3 linked regions of the Homo sapiens genome follow. The protein of the gene in region 1 interacts with the protein of each later gene in a pairwise test. Each region holds a gene or a part of one and is shown on either strand. Other genes may lie near its edges.

Region 1 (2,915 bases):
TTATTGAAGCATTATCCAACAACAGAGGCCACCTTGCGAAGGACAACTTTTAAATATAAATGATGGTGCTTATCGGAATTTGTGCATCAATTTGGACTGAAAGCCAAGAACAAATGATCTTTTACTAGCGCATGCCCTGGGAAACTTTTTTACCCTGATTCAAGGATGTAAGAACTTGTTCAAATGTTTTTGGATCTGACATGGCTTATAATGCCTGCATGCTTTCAAAACTATATCATCATCAAGTGAGCTGGGAAATACCACATACTTGTATCCTTGATGATGTGGTTTAATGGGGACACAGAATGTAGGAGGCACTGGGCTGGACGTCTTATATTCCCATATACTCCTTATGACCCGTATTCCAAATTGTGTCTTTTAATACAACTAAAGATGCTAAGATCATTTGTTTAAAGATCTGTATCATTTGTTCAAACATTTTCACGTGTATAAGAGGCTGTTGTAATTAGCAAGAAATAGTACCAATATTCGAATGCCTTTACACTTAGGAATCATTCTTACAGAAAACGAAGGCGACTATTTTATTAGAAAACAAAGGCTATATGTTAATCCATCACCAGATACGACAATGCTTACCAAAGAACTGTAAAAAATTGGTCTAAAAACAGAAAAAAGCACAACGACAGACGCATGGTATAGCACACCTCTAGGAAGCCTGCAGCCCTCACTGGAAATAAACACATACCCACACACACATATGTACAGGTTTCATAAGCAAAGATGTCTAAAACAGATTGTAAGAGAAAGATAAACACTCCTACATGTATATGTGTGCACATTTTCCTTAAAAACACATAACATGCTTTTCCTTCATTTTACTCAGCTCTGAGAAATTCCCGATACAAAACTATTCCATGCCTCATACTACAGATAGAATATCATAAAGCAAAAGTCTACATTTTCCTAGGAGCTGTTAATTAGAAGAATAAAATGTGTTTTGCATTTTTTTAGTGTAAAACCCACATACAAACAGAGATTGTGATATAGTGCTTGTCATTTTAATTGTAACATATTACCAAAAAGCTTTATATACATAGCTTTATACTATTTACATTGCAGTAGAGGAATGGCAATGCTAACAGGTGATCAGTGCTTCCAAACTTTTTCAATACCTACACATGGGAGATCTAAAGAGTACAATATATTTAAGACTTCTAAGGAATTGTTTTCTCCTCACTAATAAAGCATGCCCTGACTAAAGAGAAGTCCTGTAGGCACAGCCTTATCTATTCAATGACTGGCACCTCCCAGGGGTACTGACACACAAAGTGCCTTCACTGGACCTTACAGTTCTCACTGCCGTTGGACTCCAGTCCAGCTTTGGGGCTGGGGACAAGTCGGCCTCGCTTGACCCTCAGGCCCTCTCTGGGGCTGTCAGTCGGACTTCTCTCAGGAAGATTATTGACTGGGACGGATTTCGTGGTGGGTTCTCGGAGGATGGTGCCTGAATCTACTGGGCTCCGCTGAGCAACTTTGACCTGCAACACAAACATCTCTGTTAGAGGTTCAATCACATTCACATTTCCACAACATGAAAAATAAAGCACTATGTCACTAAGTTTTAAATTAAGTTCTTCTTCTCTAGGAGTTATATATAATTGAAGTATTTCCTCTTCCTTGAGAACAGGCCCCATCTAACAGAGAACTTAGGAGGATACCAGGTACAACCTCTAACCAGTCATCAGACGTCCCTTGGCACCTCTGATGGCAAAGACTATGCCCTATTTACCTATGTATCCCTAGAGCCCACAACATGCTTGACCACATGGTACACATCCAGTGAATTCCTAAGTGAAAAACCTGCCTCTGTTGTCCTAACTAGCCATTCCTGTTGTTTAAAACAAGTGTAACCCAAATGAGTAATACTACCTCCACAGGGTGGAAAATTTTAAAATGACCAAGGACCAGTTCAGGGTATTTTAATCATTCTCCCTTTATGGCTGACTGTTTCCATATTGAATTTGGACTAGAGCAGAAGGGCAGCTATCTAACAATAAAGTCCGGAAAGAATAAATCCCCTCTCAAACATCCTGCCTTTTAAAGGAAAGAGATATCTCAGAAAATTTGAGACTTTAAGTAGATGAGAGAGTAAGGTAACTGGTGAGTGAAGATTTTTTGAAATTGGGTCAGGCTTAGTGGCTCACATCTATAGTTCCAGCTACTCAGGAGGCTGAGGCAAGAGGATCGCTTGAGCCCAGGAGTTTGAAGCTGCAGTGAGCCGTGATAGTGCCACTGCACTCCAGCCTGGGGGACAGAGCAAGATTTAAAAAAAAAAAAATTGAAATTTATATAGTAGTGAAAAAAGATACACGGTCAAAAAAGAGAAAAAAGTGCAAGAAAAATGAAGTATAGGAAAGCTTCACCTAAGCAAAGTTAAAGGCAAGAGTGGAAGATTCAAGTAGGAAGATCTTTCAAAGAGAAAGGAGAAGGGCCTCTTGCATAATGGACACAAGGATCTGTGTCCAGCACAGTTGCTGGGAAGTAACTACGTGACAGACACTCCCTGAGCAACTGACTTCCAGGGATCTCCTTCTGATGCAAGAAGAAAAGGGAATGGAAATTATTTTCCCATTTATATTCTTTCCATAGGAAGCATGTGATTTGAAAAAGGCAGTTAAATACTTTTCATTACATGAAACATAGTAAATCTGGCCAACAGATCAAATCCCAGGAAAGCTCACTTCTCCCTCAGAGTGTGTCCAGGACACTGAAAAGACGCAGCCTTGGAAGGTCAGGACTTAATGGAAAATTACCATCCATGGAAAGTTGAAGGAAAAAAATAAAACAAAGTTTTGCTGGTACTTTTTTTTTTTTTTAAAGAGAAATAGTGATTCCAAAGACAAGGTTTCCCTGGAACCCACCAGATGTACAAGAAACAAATCTTTAGGTTTGCC
Region 2 (7,038 bases), about 15 Mb from region 1:
GGTGAGGTGGGAGAAGTGATTGGACCCAGGAGGTTGAGGCTGTCGTGAACTGTGATCTCGCTACTGGACAAAATTTACAAAGAAACGCGACATACAAATTAGTATCTTCTCATCAAAGTTAACTACAAAAAGATCGTATCATATTCCAAAAGCCCTGATTACAGATTTGAAATGGCAAAGCCATTTCAAGAAAAGGCAACTAAAGGACTCAGTGGCCACACACCCAACACTCATCACCTGATCAGCAAACTGGGTCATGTAGCGCTGGAGTCGGCTCTGGTTGTCAGTCTGCTCACACATTTGTACCAATATATCAAAGTCACAGTATTTCTCTGCTAGAGAAGCAGCCCACAGGTACTGGCCTAGTGAAACTGTGGGAATGAGAAAAGATGGGAAAAAATCCTGTTAGCAAAACTTAAAATCTGTAATAAAAAATGTTACTTGAAATTTTATCTTTATTCCTATTATAAACCAACAATCATTAATGGAATGGAAACCTTCCCACTTACTGGCACTTAGTTTCACAATTCACATCAATTTCTTAAAGATGCAAATTCAGGCCAGGTGCGGTGGCTCACACCTGTAATCCCAGCACTTTGGGAGGCTGAGGCGGGTGGATCACCTGAGGTCAGGAGTTCGAGTCCCGCCAGGCCAATATGGTGAAACCCCATCCCTACCAAAAATACAAAATTAGCCAGTTGTGGTGGCACACGCCTGTAATCCCAGCTACCTGGGAGGCTGAGGCAGGAGAATTGTTTGAACCCGGGAGATGGAGGTTGCAGTGAGCTGAGATTATACCACTGCACTACAGCCTGGGCGAGAGAGTGACGCTCTGTCTCAACAAAAAAAAAAGATGCAAATTCAGACCCTTGTTTCATCACTGCCTCCCCAAAACGCTATTCTCTTCCTTCATGTAAGAGTAAAGCAAACTCTTCCCAGTCCTAGCCTGGAGTATAATGTGTCCTTTGCCAAACAGCCATAATATCTTATCTGTACCCCTCAAGCAGCCCTCACCAGGCTCTACTTTGCAATCCAGTTATTCACGTAAAGGTCTGTGATGCTAAGCTCTTTAAGGGTAGTCTCCACATGTTGTTTGTTTATGTATTTATTAATTGTCTTCAGTATCATCTATGGTACTTATACCTAGATAGTACTGGAAAAAAAGTTGAATAAATGAGCACAGAAAGCTGTGCATATTTGCTTTAAGTTCTTTATTACAGTTGGATTAACACTACCACACTGAATATACTGAATTAACTATTCAACCCTTTCATCCATTCAGCAAATTTAAAACTCTTGCCAAGTATCATGAACTTACGAAGAGGAGATAAGAGATCTGATCTTTTCTGTAGGTATTCCATCTCCAGATTGTCATATCTTTCCCGATTACTGGATTTATCCACAGACTTAAGCTGAGAAACATAACCATCCAGGAAGCAATCGATCAGGGCTACCAGCTGCTCGGTCACGATGTTTCGGAGGTTGCTGTCTGCCTGTGGATAAGCCACCTTCAGGACAATCTCATGCTGGCGTATTATTACCGTTCGGATGCCACCAGGACCACTTGTTGCTGTGAAATTACACAAAATAATATGGTTAAAGTAAGGGATCTAGTGATGGCTAAAGGAAAGACTAATAGCATAAAAATTATGCCTCTTCATCACTGCTGGAAAATTACATTGAACAGGGATTCAGGTGATACCTGTCAATGCCCTGCTTGAATCCCATCTTCTCCAAGGAGATTTCCTCAGCAAAGCCAGGTAAACATGACTCTTCTTCCTTCTAAATTCCTTTAATGCTACTCCACTTACTTTCTTGTATTAAATCAACATAAAATATAGTCCATACCTCCGGGGCCAGGACTGCTTCTATGAATAACTATTTGAACTAAAACCTAGTAAATGCATAAGTACCAGTTGAATACATAAATTATAGAGAGATCGATAAATAAGAGCAAGGGACGAATAAAGTGATTTTGACAAGAGCTGCTCATTTTGGAGACGGCACTTTTTCATTTCACTTACAAACCTACGCTAGGGGAATAACACAACTTCTAAAAATGATGGGTCATTAGAAATATATTTTGAACAACTGTTAATAAATCAGTATATTACCCGTCCATGGAACATATTCAGGTTCTTTTTCTAGTGATTCTTCTCTTCTATACAAAGAGTTTCTATTTTGGCGATAATGACTAGCAGCCTGCAGCATATCCTGGAAAAAAAGTTAATGTGTTATCACATGCAAAAGGTGATGGATCACAGTATTTCTGAAGATAATTTAAGACAGCAAAGTAAATTAGTAAGAAAAAATACTCAGGGGCCAGGAATGTTGGCTCACACCTGTAATCCCAGTGCTTTGGGAGGCTGAGGTAGGAGGATTGCTCCTAGCCTGACAACATAGTGAGACCCCATCTGTACAAAAAATTTTTAAAATTACCTGGGCATCGTGGCGTGCACCTACCGTCCCAGCTACTTGGGAGACTGAGGCAGGAGGACTGCTTGAGCCCAGGAGGTGGAGGCTGCAGTGAGCTATAATCAAGCCACTATAAACCCAGCCTGGGCAATGGAGTGAGACCATGTCTCACAAAAAAAAAAAAAAAAAGAAAAGAAAAGAAAATGAGAGAAAAAAGTCAGCACAGATCTGCATGATTACTTTTTGGTTCTTTCTGCTTTTGAAATTTGTTTTACTCCATAATTTAACTTCAGTTTTGGCAAATAATAGTAGGAAAATTATTTGGCAAAGTAGGAAAATCATTACTACAAGTCCACTAGCTAAAATTAAATGGAACGTTTTAGTCAATAGTAAAAGTAGCAAGGTTTTGAGTAATTAAAAAAATAGAAATGAGAAATATTTAGACAGTTACATTAACAATACGTTTGCAATCAGGCATGGTGTCTCAGTTCTGTAATCCCAACACTCTTGGAGGTTGAGGCAGGAGGAAGTCGTGAGCCCAGAGTTCAAGGTTACAGTGAGCTATGATGGTGCCACTGCACTCCAGCTTGGGTGACAGTGAGACCTTCTCTCAGAAAAAAAACCAACTAAAAAATTGCAAAGATACAAACACATCTTCCCAAATGAAAGGTTTATTATTCTACCAAATAGAAACTCAAGATTATAGAAATTTATTAATAGGCACCAGGCTAACATTCAAAATACTCATTAGCTGATTAATAATAAAATGACATTTTTCTAACTTTTTTGGGATTAACAAATGTCTACAACCTTATACATTATCGGCAATACAGAGTAGGAACATGGAAACCAGTTCCTTGTCTATCCATGCCCTGGGCTTTGATTTGCTGAAGCCTTTACTATATTTTTGTACCTTGAGAATATTGTTCACATTGATCACCACTTCAGCCCATTCAATGGAATCCATAGGTGCATCCCTCAAGACTTGCTCCTCATGCTCCAGTAAGCACTCACAGATGGTATCTACTTGGGATACCTGAGAGAATACACAGAAGTAAACTACTTACAACAAAAATTATGGTGATGGGTAACAACTACCCAGTGAGTTTTACTCATTAAGCCATATCCTCAGACCTATAGATGGAGGAAAATTTATTGGCAGTTGATGGTAAAAATAAATTCAAAAATCAAGAAAAGTCACATCTCCTAACTTTTAAAAGTCAGAGTGCCCAAATAAGTCTTATAAACAGGCAAATTCTGGATTGTTACTGAGATTTTTAAGCGATGATATTTTTTATTATAGCTACTCTGCTCAGTGCATCTTTAAATAGCACTAGGTTACAGATGACATCACTTTACAATGTAATACCCCAAACTAATGAACTAATAGACTAAAATAATGACCTCAAAAAGTGAACTTGCTAATTTCTTTCTTTGAGGAATTCCCCTTCTTCAGACATAACAGAAACATTTGTAGAACAGAAGTAAGCAACATAAGAGAATGAACTAAATACATAACTTCTAACTCTTCCTTTGTCATTAATTAATACATGGAGATAACAGTGCAAAAATACCATCAGGCACTGAAACTCCTGTTTCAAGTTCAAGTCTGCACTTAAGCTTTCCCCCCATTATTTAGAGTTTGCATAGCAATGGACACTCAGAGATAAGAGGAAAGAAAAATCAGATTAGCTGCCCTCAAGGACCTCACAAACTGGCTGAAGGAACAAGTTATATAGGCACAGATAAAACATGACCCAAACAAAATCCCTCCCTTTTGCAAACCTTGTTCTTCCTTTTGCATTTCTGATGTTAGCCAAAGGCATCCTAACAGCCCAGGCAAGAAATCTTTAGCACATTTAATTTATAAGCTTAAGTGTAAGAATATTTTACATTGTTAACATGAAAAACACAATGAAAGCCTATATAATGGCCGGGTGCGGTGGCTCATGCCTGCAATCCCAGCACTTTGGAGGTGGGTGGATCACAAGGTCAAGAGATCAAGACCATCCTGGAAAACATGGTGAAACCCTGTCTCCACTAAAAATACAAAAATTAGCTGGGCGTCGTGGCGTGCACCTGGAGTCCCGGCTACTTGGGAGGCTGAGGCAGGAGAATTGCTTGAACCAAGGAGGCCGAGGCTGCGGTGAGCAGAGATTGTGTCACTGCACTCCAGCCTGGCGACAGAGCAAGACTCAGTCTCAAAAAAAAAAAAAAAGGAAAGCATATATAATATAAAAGACAGAAAATAACATAAAAGCACATAAAATGCCAAAACACTTGTTAAATTCTCTTATCATGTATATATTCAGTGATTTCAAATATTGCTCATATGCCGTGTCAACATAGTCTGTTCCTTAAGCAGTGAGCTCTGCTTTTCCAGAGCCCTGGGAGGTACAAGGCCTTCCCAAACTGGAGACAGAGTCAAAGTGGAGAGCGCACCCTCAGGCAGCTCTGTATTGTTTTACTTTCTATCAGGGCTGCCAAGTCAAAATATCGTTCTATATGGCCCACCAATCAGAGATTGATTTTGGTTAACCAGCTCGTCCCAAAACACAAATACTCCTTAGACAGGTAACTTGTCACCCCCAAGTGGAAGGACAGGTAAAAAGAAAGAAAAACTACTATATGCATATAGCTATTGTATTCTCTTTTCATGATCATTATGACACGGGAGAAAACCTTTATAACTACACCCCAGAGAAGCTAAAGACCAACGAACATCATGAGAAATGAAGATAAATAGTGACAGGAACAGTCCTAAACATTACCATTTTTCATATGGAACATTCTTTTGAGGAGCCAATCACATTTTTAGTTTTGCTGTATCATATTCCTAAAATATTATTCTATATGTATCCAACTGATAATTTCCAGACCCTTCTCCAATAATTCAGCTAACTGAAACATGTACATACACTAAATTGACACTTATACTTTGCCCTTTGATCCAAATGCAGAATAATGAACCAGGCTCTTGCTCAGTTCTTACAAGTAGTCTGTAATTAATTTTAAAAAATTGTCTTATCATATAAAATTATATATGAATAAAGACCAAAAAGGACACAAAAATGACAACAACTTGATTTGTTAGATCATGAAACTTGAGGTGATTTGTTTTTCTTTCAGATTTCTGGCATACTGTCTAGATTAAAAACAAAACATAACAAAGTGCTTTTCCTTCCATTCCCCAGGAACTAACCCAAATGCATAAAAGCAAAGAATTCACACTAAACACATTTATGGAATCAACAGGAAGACTGAATTTAGGTTATAGTACATCAAACTTAGGTTACAGTACATCAAACATTAAGAAAAAGAGACTTGTCGGCACAGTGTGCTACATGTTAGAATACAGCTAGGCTATAGGAGGAAGGAAGCAAAATTTGAGACACCAAATAGAGTTTGAAGTTCCTCAAATGCATAAGGAATTCCAAATTTCACAGAGCTCAGGGAAGAGCTGGCCCTGTTTCTAAAACCAGATAGTTCTGCAGTCTCAGTTAAGACAACAGGTCTAAGTTCTAATGTCACACCTTTAAAGGGAGACAGCGAAGTCTGCCTTGCTGCCTCATCAGGCTGTGAAGCTTCACAAAAGCACGAGGACTGCGTCACTATTTCCACAATGTCCAGCTGCCACTGGCTGCCCAGCATCTTAACCATTTCTGTCTTTGAAGTTTGTAGCAGACTTTACTTTTTCTCTGAAAATAAATCTGATTCTACAAGCAAGGTGTAGCAACAGGATCCTAGGAGGTAGCTGAGGAGTTCAGTGAAGGTACTGTTTGCAAAGGTGTGGGCAAGATTAAGGGGTCCAAAAAGGGATGGGGCAGCACCCTAGGATGAGGCATTATCAACCTCAGGCCTGAAGAGGCACAAGGAGGGGGCAGCTACTGGAAACACAGAGAAAGCAGTTGGACAGGAGGCACAGTCCCTGACAGAGGGGCACAGCCAATGTAAAGTGCGCACAGGCAAGGAAGAAAGCTGGCAGAATAACTACTCCAACTTCTGGCCTTATGGCAGGGCCTCACATTCATCTGACCTGGCAGAAGCCGGAGGGCAAGGGAGCCCATTCAGGAAGGCCACCTTGCTGTGGCAGAGTCAAGAGTAGATCTGCCTGGCCAACAAGGGTGAAACCAGGTCTCTACTAAAAATACAAAAATTAGCTGGGCATGGTGGCACATGCCTGTAGTCCCAGCTACTTGGGAGGCTGAGGCAGGAGAATTGCTTGAAGCCAGGAGGCAGAGGTTGCAGTGAGCCGACATTGCACTGTTGCACTCCAGCCTGGCAACAGAGCAAGACTTAGTGCCCCCTGCCCCCAGAAAAAAGAGTAGATCGAGAGAGACAAAGGAGAAGATCAGGATGGATGCAGTAGCTCACGCCTGTAATCCCAGCACTTTGGGAGGCTGAGGCGAGTGGATCACCTGAGGTCAGGAGTTCGACATCAAACCCCATCTCTACTAAAAATATGAAAATTAGCCGGGGTGGTGGCTAGCACCTGTAATCCCAGCTACTCGGGAGGCTGAGGTAGGAGAATCACTGGAACCCGGGCAACAGAGTGAGACTCCATCTCAAAAAAAAAAAAAAAGAAGATCAGCATGCAAAGCAAATAGGTACTTGGAGACAGTT
Region 3 (6,838 bases), on another chromosome or scaffold:
CTTAAAGAGGTAAAATGTATGTAAAACAAACTAAGAAACCCCTTGGTTCTACTGTTGACAAAATAATGAACACAAAAATATAAAAGCATCGTTACAGAAATAATGAAAAGTGAAGTACCATAAAGCTGGGAGAACACCAACTCTAGGCTCAAACTCTAGGCTCAAAATAAAACCCTCTCAAAAGATGTTCTTATTTTAATAAAAATGCTAATTTGAAACCAACTAACTCGGTTGCCTATTCTGGCTTTCTGCTTCCCTTCTTTTTTTACCTACATCCACTTTCTACTGTTCCTTTATAATCACTGATAGTTAAATGGTTAGGTGGAGCTAACCATTCTGATAACATTTTCTTGTTCCTTAATGCCTACTTTTTGTTGAGAGTATTATTGTTGCAGAATTCAAGAGAAAGAATAAAAGAACTTTAAGCTTTATAAAGTAAGTTGTGGAGATAAAAGTGAATCTATGCTATGCCTTTCTTCTTTCCCCATGGATAATCAAACAATAACTGTAAATCTACTTCCTTTCATCTTTACAAGAGAAATACACTAAGACTGGTACCCAGTTTTTACTAGTTTTACCTGTACGTACTAGAAATCCAGTTAAGTTACTTACCTTCTTAATTTTTTGGAAAATGTCATGAATTGCCCTGGGTATAACTCCCAAATGATCTTCTGAACCCATCATGGTATATGTTTTTCCTGAAGCAGTCTGTCCATAGGCAAATATAGTACCTGCAAAAAACAAAACACACATACGCAAAGATTAAAAACAAACCTATAATGGGTAAAACTATGCATGCTTGTTGCACAGACGCCCAAGACTAAAATGTTTCTGCAGCATTGAGTGAATACAAACCATTGTAGCCTTGTATGGCAGAATCGATGATTGGTGCTGCTATTTCTTCATACACATTTTTGGTAGTTTCATTACCATGAAAGACACGATCTAAACAACAACAACAACAACAACAACACAGAAGTTAAATCAAATGAGTCCACTGTGTTTTCATTCCAAATTAGTAATTATTCCCAAAAGTAAAACTGTCAGAATGTAGGATGATCAACTATTTAAGACACAGTATTTTTTTCAACTTTTTGGTTCTCTGAAAATACCCTTCCCTAAGGTAAAATGAGTTCATTTTCACACACAAAAAATACACTACAAGTCAACTTTTCTATGTTCTTTCAAGAGGCAATAAGGTATAGTGTTTGCACATGGGGGTCTGGAATCTACCTAGATGCAAATTAGATAACTGTGATTATAACTGTTTTAAATGCCAATTGGTTACCTTACTTAAATACATGATGGATAAACAATTTTGTTTCCAGTGAAGCAGTTTATAGAAGGCTTAGTCTAATCTTTAGTGACAAATCTAATATTATTGATAAGCCTTTTGTACTTTTAATAGCAAAAGGATAACAAGGTAACTTTTGATGCTATTATAAGCTTACCAAAATTGAAGGATTTACTTCCATCAACTTGATAAATGACATTATTGTCAGTTTTCCAGTAAACTTGGGCAGTTTCTCCAAGTGATTCTTCTCTAAAAGAATAAAAACACCGCATTTTAACCAGTCATAAAAGTCATGTCATAGGAGGAATAATTGAAAAGATTTCACCTGCTAAAGAATATTTTGAAAGATAGTAACATAAGAGAATGACAGAAAGTCCATCTTTGAGGATTCAACTCTTAAATGGAGCTTCAGTGACCTTCTGCCGCCTCAAAAGTGTTTTCTTGTGAAGGCTTTCATTCTCACCCTCTCCCCCAGTACTGGTAAACAAAGGGATGGATTCAAAATGCAACTCTGATTATGTCTGTCTTGCTTAAAATTCTTAAAACCTTTTGGAAACTTATGAAATCCTCAGCAGGGCACGAGTCCTAGATCATGTCATTTCTCTCTTCCATTTTCCTCTGAATTCCTAGATACATCCTAAGCTCTACCTGAAGGTCTTCCCCAAATGACAGATGTAACCTCTCTGTGCCTGGAATACTCTGACTTCCCTTTCCATTAAGTAACATAGGGATTATTTCACTCATGAAAAGCGTCAAGACTTTTCTGACACCAGTTCACCCCACGGGAAGCTTTCGTCTCTGATGGGCTAATAACTCCTCTAGCAAACATTCTCTACCTGCCCATCATAACACTTGTCAAAAGGTATCCTAATGGTTTCTTTATGTAGCCGTTTAAGGCATTAGATAATGAGCTCCTCAAAAATAGGAAATTCCTGATCTTGGTATTTGCATTTATTAAACCCCGTGTTCAATAAAAATTTCTCACACACACAAAGTGTTAGCATTTCGGGTCGAGGGCCAGAAGCTAGTGAAGCAAACCGATTTCATTTATTCCTCTTCCTGCTTTTTCTCCCTAGCACTTATTACCTACATATCACCACTTAACATCCTACATTTTCAACTTTACTTTCTGTCTCGTCCCATTAGAATGGAAGAGCCACTGGGCAATGACGGGAGTGTCTGTGTTGTACAAAGTCACTAAAAAAAAATTGATAAATATTTGTAGAATGATCTTGAGTGACGATTGAATGTAATGTGACAAGACAGACTAGCCCTTGTCTTCAGAGGGTCTGGAGACAGCAGTTAGGTGTAAAATGACTAACTGTGATGAGGGCCAGGAAGGCACGGTCCCATACGACTTCTCTAGGCGGGGAATGGGGCAGGGAGGAGCAGATGCCGCAAGGCAGAGCAGCACAGAAGGGAAGGTCTGTATGTCAGCGAGACTGAGTTAAATTTAAGTGAATCTCGCAGCTGGAAAGTATCTTCTAGATCTCCGATCCTCCCCTGTCACTTTACAGACCCTGAAACGATGGCCAGCAGCCGAGTCACTAGACAGCAGAGCCGGGAAGCAGCGGCTCCTGGAAACATCGTAGGCCTCGCCCCTCCGGCTCAGGGCGGCGCCGCAGGCCCAGCGGGCACCGGGCCGTGGTGTGGCCCCCCTACCTGCTGTTCAGCGGCCGCACTCGCACGCAGACGGCCACGGCTCCTTCCTCCGCCATCCTATCAGGCTGAACTGGTCCCAGGAAAATGGCCAGGACCCTCCGCGGCCGGCACTTCAGGGCTCACAGGCCGCCCCGCCTTTAAATTTAAAATTTCCCAAACGCCGCATCTGATTGAGCCGTGGCCTCGTGACGTCATGGGCCATTCCACGTGCGGAGCAGCGCGGGGGACGCAAGGCGGGCGGCGTGACCACTGCTAAACAGGAGAGGGGATTTAAAGGGCCCAGCAGAGAGTCGGAGGAGAGGGCCGAAGGGAGGGGCTCCCAGGAGTGGGCAGAGAGTGGTGGTCCTGGAATACCAGAATACTATTATCTGCCAAAAGCTAGCGAACGTCATCCTCCACCCCATCCTTAAAAAGTTTGGAACCTGTAGACGAAACTAGGTAGAGATACATGTATTTTTCACTACCCAAACAGAATTGCCGTCTTTTAAAGAAACTGCACCAACAGTTTAAAATAAACTTTCAACAGCAAGAGTTGAAATTCGCTGTCCAGTCCAGAAACGTGACAAGCCTGTTGTGCGCCTTAGAAAATCTGAGTTTAGGCTTTTCTCCTGTTTCTCTCTCTCTGTAACTCGTTTCCATTAGCTGTGGCTTCCTCAGAGGTTGAATTAGGGAAAATAAATACCGAGGACTGAAAAACTCATTGAGTAATGGGTTGATACTTTTTTTTTCTTCTTTTTTTTGGAAACGGAGTCTCGCTCTGTCACCCCAGGCTGGAGTGCAGTGGTGCTTATCTCTGCTCATTGCAGCCTCCACCTCCTGCATTCAAGTGATTCTCCTGCCTCAGCCTCCCCAGTAGCTGGGATTACAAGGTGCCCGCCACCACGCCCAGGTAATTTTTGTATTTTTAGTAGAGACGGGGCTTCGCCATGTTGGCAAGGCTGGTCTCAAAGTCCTGACCTCAGGTGATCCACTTGCCTCGGTCTCCAAAAGTGCTGGGATTAAAGGCGTGAGCCACCGCTCCTGGCCTGGTTTGTTACTTTTATTAACTAAGAGGGAAAGCTATTCTAAATACAGTGATTTTTTCCCAAAAATAATGCTTATTTTCCCTTTCTTCTCTCTCTCTCTTTTTTTTTTTTTTTTTTTTTTAAATAAACATGAGTTCTTGCTTTGTCACCTAGGCTAGAGTGCAGTAGGCTGAACACAGCTCACTGCAGGCTCAACTCCTGGCCTCAGCCCAAGTGGGGTTCCCACCTTAACCTCCTGAGTAGCTTGGATTACAGGCACATCACAAGCCCAGATAATTTTTAAATTTTTTTGTAGAGACGGGGTGGTGGGGGGATTAGGGTAGGGAGTGGGGTCTCACAGTGTTGCCTAGGCAGGTCTTGAACTCCTAGGCTCAAGCAATCCTCCTTGCCTTGGCCTCCCAAAGTGCTGGGATTACAAGCATGAGCCATCGTGCCTGGCCTAGCTTTTTATGTGTACTTTAGAAAGCTATCCAAGATGTTTCATTTATTAAGAGAAATTCAAGGTGCACGGTTATGTACACAGAATATGTCTGGATATACATACATAATTTTTGGAAAGATACACAGAATATGCCTAATTTCCTTGCAGAGTGAGGACTGAGTTAGATGGTAGACTGAGTTAGATGAAAGTAGTTTCTTTCAATTTAAAGAAACTAGTTTATAGATAAGAACAGTAAAGAAAAATGAGTCTATTCATTCAAGATTTGTTTTGGTTAACTAGCTGTGAGGTAGTATAAACAACTCTTTTTTATTGCTAGACTGTAAAGATACTTGGTTGTATCTAGTAAGAAAATACAGAGTTAAGGAAGGTATATTTTAACTGTTGTTTTTGTTTTAATTGTGGGCAAATATGAGACAGCTGAAGGCAAGGAACCTATGAAGAAGAAGGGAGATGTGATTAATCAAAATTTCTAATGAGACAAGAGGAGATTGGTTCACGAGTAAAGAGAAGTCATCAGCCTTTCATAGTTGTGCTTATGATCGTTGCTATGACTGTCTTTTTTTATCATCACAGCAGGTGACATTTATTGAAGATTTACTATATGCCAGGCTCTCTATTATATGCTCTCTATCCAATTTTTTCATCTGACTTTCCAAATTGTTCATCAAGAAATATTCATTGAACAACTGTTATGTGCCAGATACGGTTCTAAGGTCAGGAAGCACAACAGTAAATAGAATAGACACAGTACCTGTTGTTGTAGAGTTGCTATTCTCTTAGAGGAGATGGGTAATACAGAAAAATCTCAGTCTCTCTCTCTCTCTCTCTACACACACACACACACACACACACACACACACACACACACACACATAATGTAATGATTAATAGGATCAGGAGACAGAGAGAGAGTGATAAGGTGGGTTAAGAGTGCTAGTTTCTTATGAAACACATTCTTGTGGGAAGCAGCAGACAATACATAACAAATATATAGTAAAATAATGTGTTGGGAGGAAGGTTTATTTTAGATGAGATGTTCAAGAAAGACCTGAGGAGGTGACCTTTGAAGTGAAACCTATGTGAGAAGAGTGAGCCAGACTTGGGAGGACAAGAGAAAGGGCGTACCAGACAGAGGAACAAGTAAGTCAAAGAAGCCAAGGCTTGATCGAGTTTGTCATCTGTCTGAGACACAAAGGGGAGGGCCCTGTGACTGAAGCATTTGTGGCAATGGAGAGAGGTAGGCAGGTCCAGGTCCAGGACCCATGGGGCCTTGTGGGCTGTGATAAAATGTTTGGATCTTATTCTCAAGGGTGAGGGGAAGCCTATGGAGGGTTTTAAGCAAGGGGGTAAAAAGGGATTCATTAATTCCTTCAAACAAGACACTCTTTATTTCACTATGAAAATAGAAGCTTCCAGAAAAGACTTTGCCCTAATTCCTGTCAATCTGGCTACTCACTATGTGCATTTGTGCTTGCATACTCGCCTTCCAGACTGTAACTTTATAAACATCTGTGTGTTTTCCACTCTGGAAACTCTCCATGTGTGCACTGGATACAGTCCTCTCCTTCTCACTCTCTGTCCTGCTTGTCATTTTCTCCTGCTCTAGAAAACCAGTCTTAACAGCAAACATATGCCTTAATTCCTCCCATATTGAGTGTCTAATATATATGGCAAACTTAAAATGTCTAATACCAAATTCATGCTCTTCCCCTCAAAATCTGCTCAATCAGCAGTTTTCTGCTTCTCAGTTGTTGGCAAGTCCATCCTTCCAGTTATCCAGGTGCAGACTCTGGAGCCATGCTGCTCAGCTTCTCACCTGAAAATTCTGTCAGGGCCACCTTGAGAAAATTTCAGACTATGAAAAGTTTGTCACAACTTACGCTTCAGCTACCTGGTCCGAAATATCATCATCTGGCACTGAGCTAATCTCAGTGTTTCCACCCTTGCCCACCCCCACTGCCAGTCTGTTCTCAACACAGCAATTTGAATGATTCTGTGAAAATGTGTCAGATCATGTCACTCCTCTCTCAAGACCCCCAGTGCCACACCTTCACCCCCACCCTCTGATTTCTCTCAGAACAAAACCCAACGTCTTTCAGTTGTCTCCCAAGCCTCACATGATCTTGCCCTTTGTTTGTGCTCTGGCCTTACCTCCTACCACTGTCCCTCCCCTTTGCTCTCCCCACTCCAGCCACACGGGCCATGGGCAGTTTCCTGAATCCCAGACAAACCCCCTCTTGAGACCTTTGCACTGGCTGCTGTGTCTGGATGGAAGGCTTTCACTCCAGATATACATGTTTCCCTCCTTCCCATTGATTCCAGTGTTTACTCAAATGTCACCCTCTCATAGCTCTCTCTCTATAAAACACCAACTCCATTGTATGTTACTTCTATTTCTTAAATCTTCTTCTTAAA

Evidence for each region. Proteins that work in one complex are often made in the same cells at the same time.
Region 2: the proteins of CENPF (region 1) and NUP133 interact in a two-hybrid assay, tested with the Homo sapiens proteins (one study listed by IntAct).
Region 3: the proteins of CENPF (region 1) and CENPE interact in a two-hybrid assay, tested with the Homo sapiens proteins (one study listed by IntAct).

The regions. Positions count from the first base shown.
Region 1 is NC_000001.11:214,662,175-214,665,089, reverse strand, and holds the end of CENPF (centromere protein F), read right to left. Parts: intron 1,500-2,915; coding exon 1,296-1,499; 3' UTR 519-1,295; downstream 1-518. UniProt on the Homo sapiens protein: Required for kinetochore function and chromosome segregation in mitosis. Required for kinetochore localization of dynein, LIS1, NDE1 and NDEL1.
Region 2 is NC_000001.11:229,463,306-229,470,343, forward strand, and holds part of NUP133 (nuclear pore complex protein Nup133), read right to left. Parts: intron 3,452-7,038; coding exon 3,329-3,451; intron 2,215-3,328; coding exon 2,115-2,214; intron 1,571-2,114; coding exon 1,319-1,570; intron 372-1,318; coding exon 238-371; intron 1-237. UniProt on the Homo sapiens protein: Involved in poly(A)+ RNA transport. Involved in nephrogenesis.
Region 3 is NC_000004.12:103,195,308-103,202,145, forward strand, and holds the start of CENPE (centromere-associated protein E isoform 1 precursor), read right to left. Parts: upstream 3,037-6,838; 5' UTR 3,013-3,036; coding exon 2,957-3,012; intron 1,544-2,956; coding exon 1,452-1,543; intron 946-1,451; coding exon 856-945; intron 732-855; coding exon 613-731; intron 1-612. UniProt on the Homo sapiens protein: Microtubule plus-end-directed kinetochore motor which plays an important role in chromosome congression, microtubule-kinetochore conjugation and spindle assembly checkpoint activation.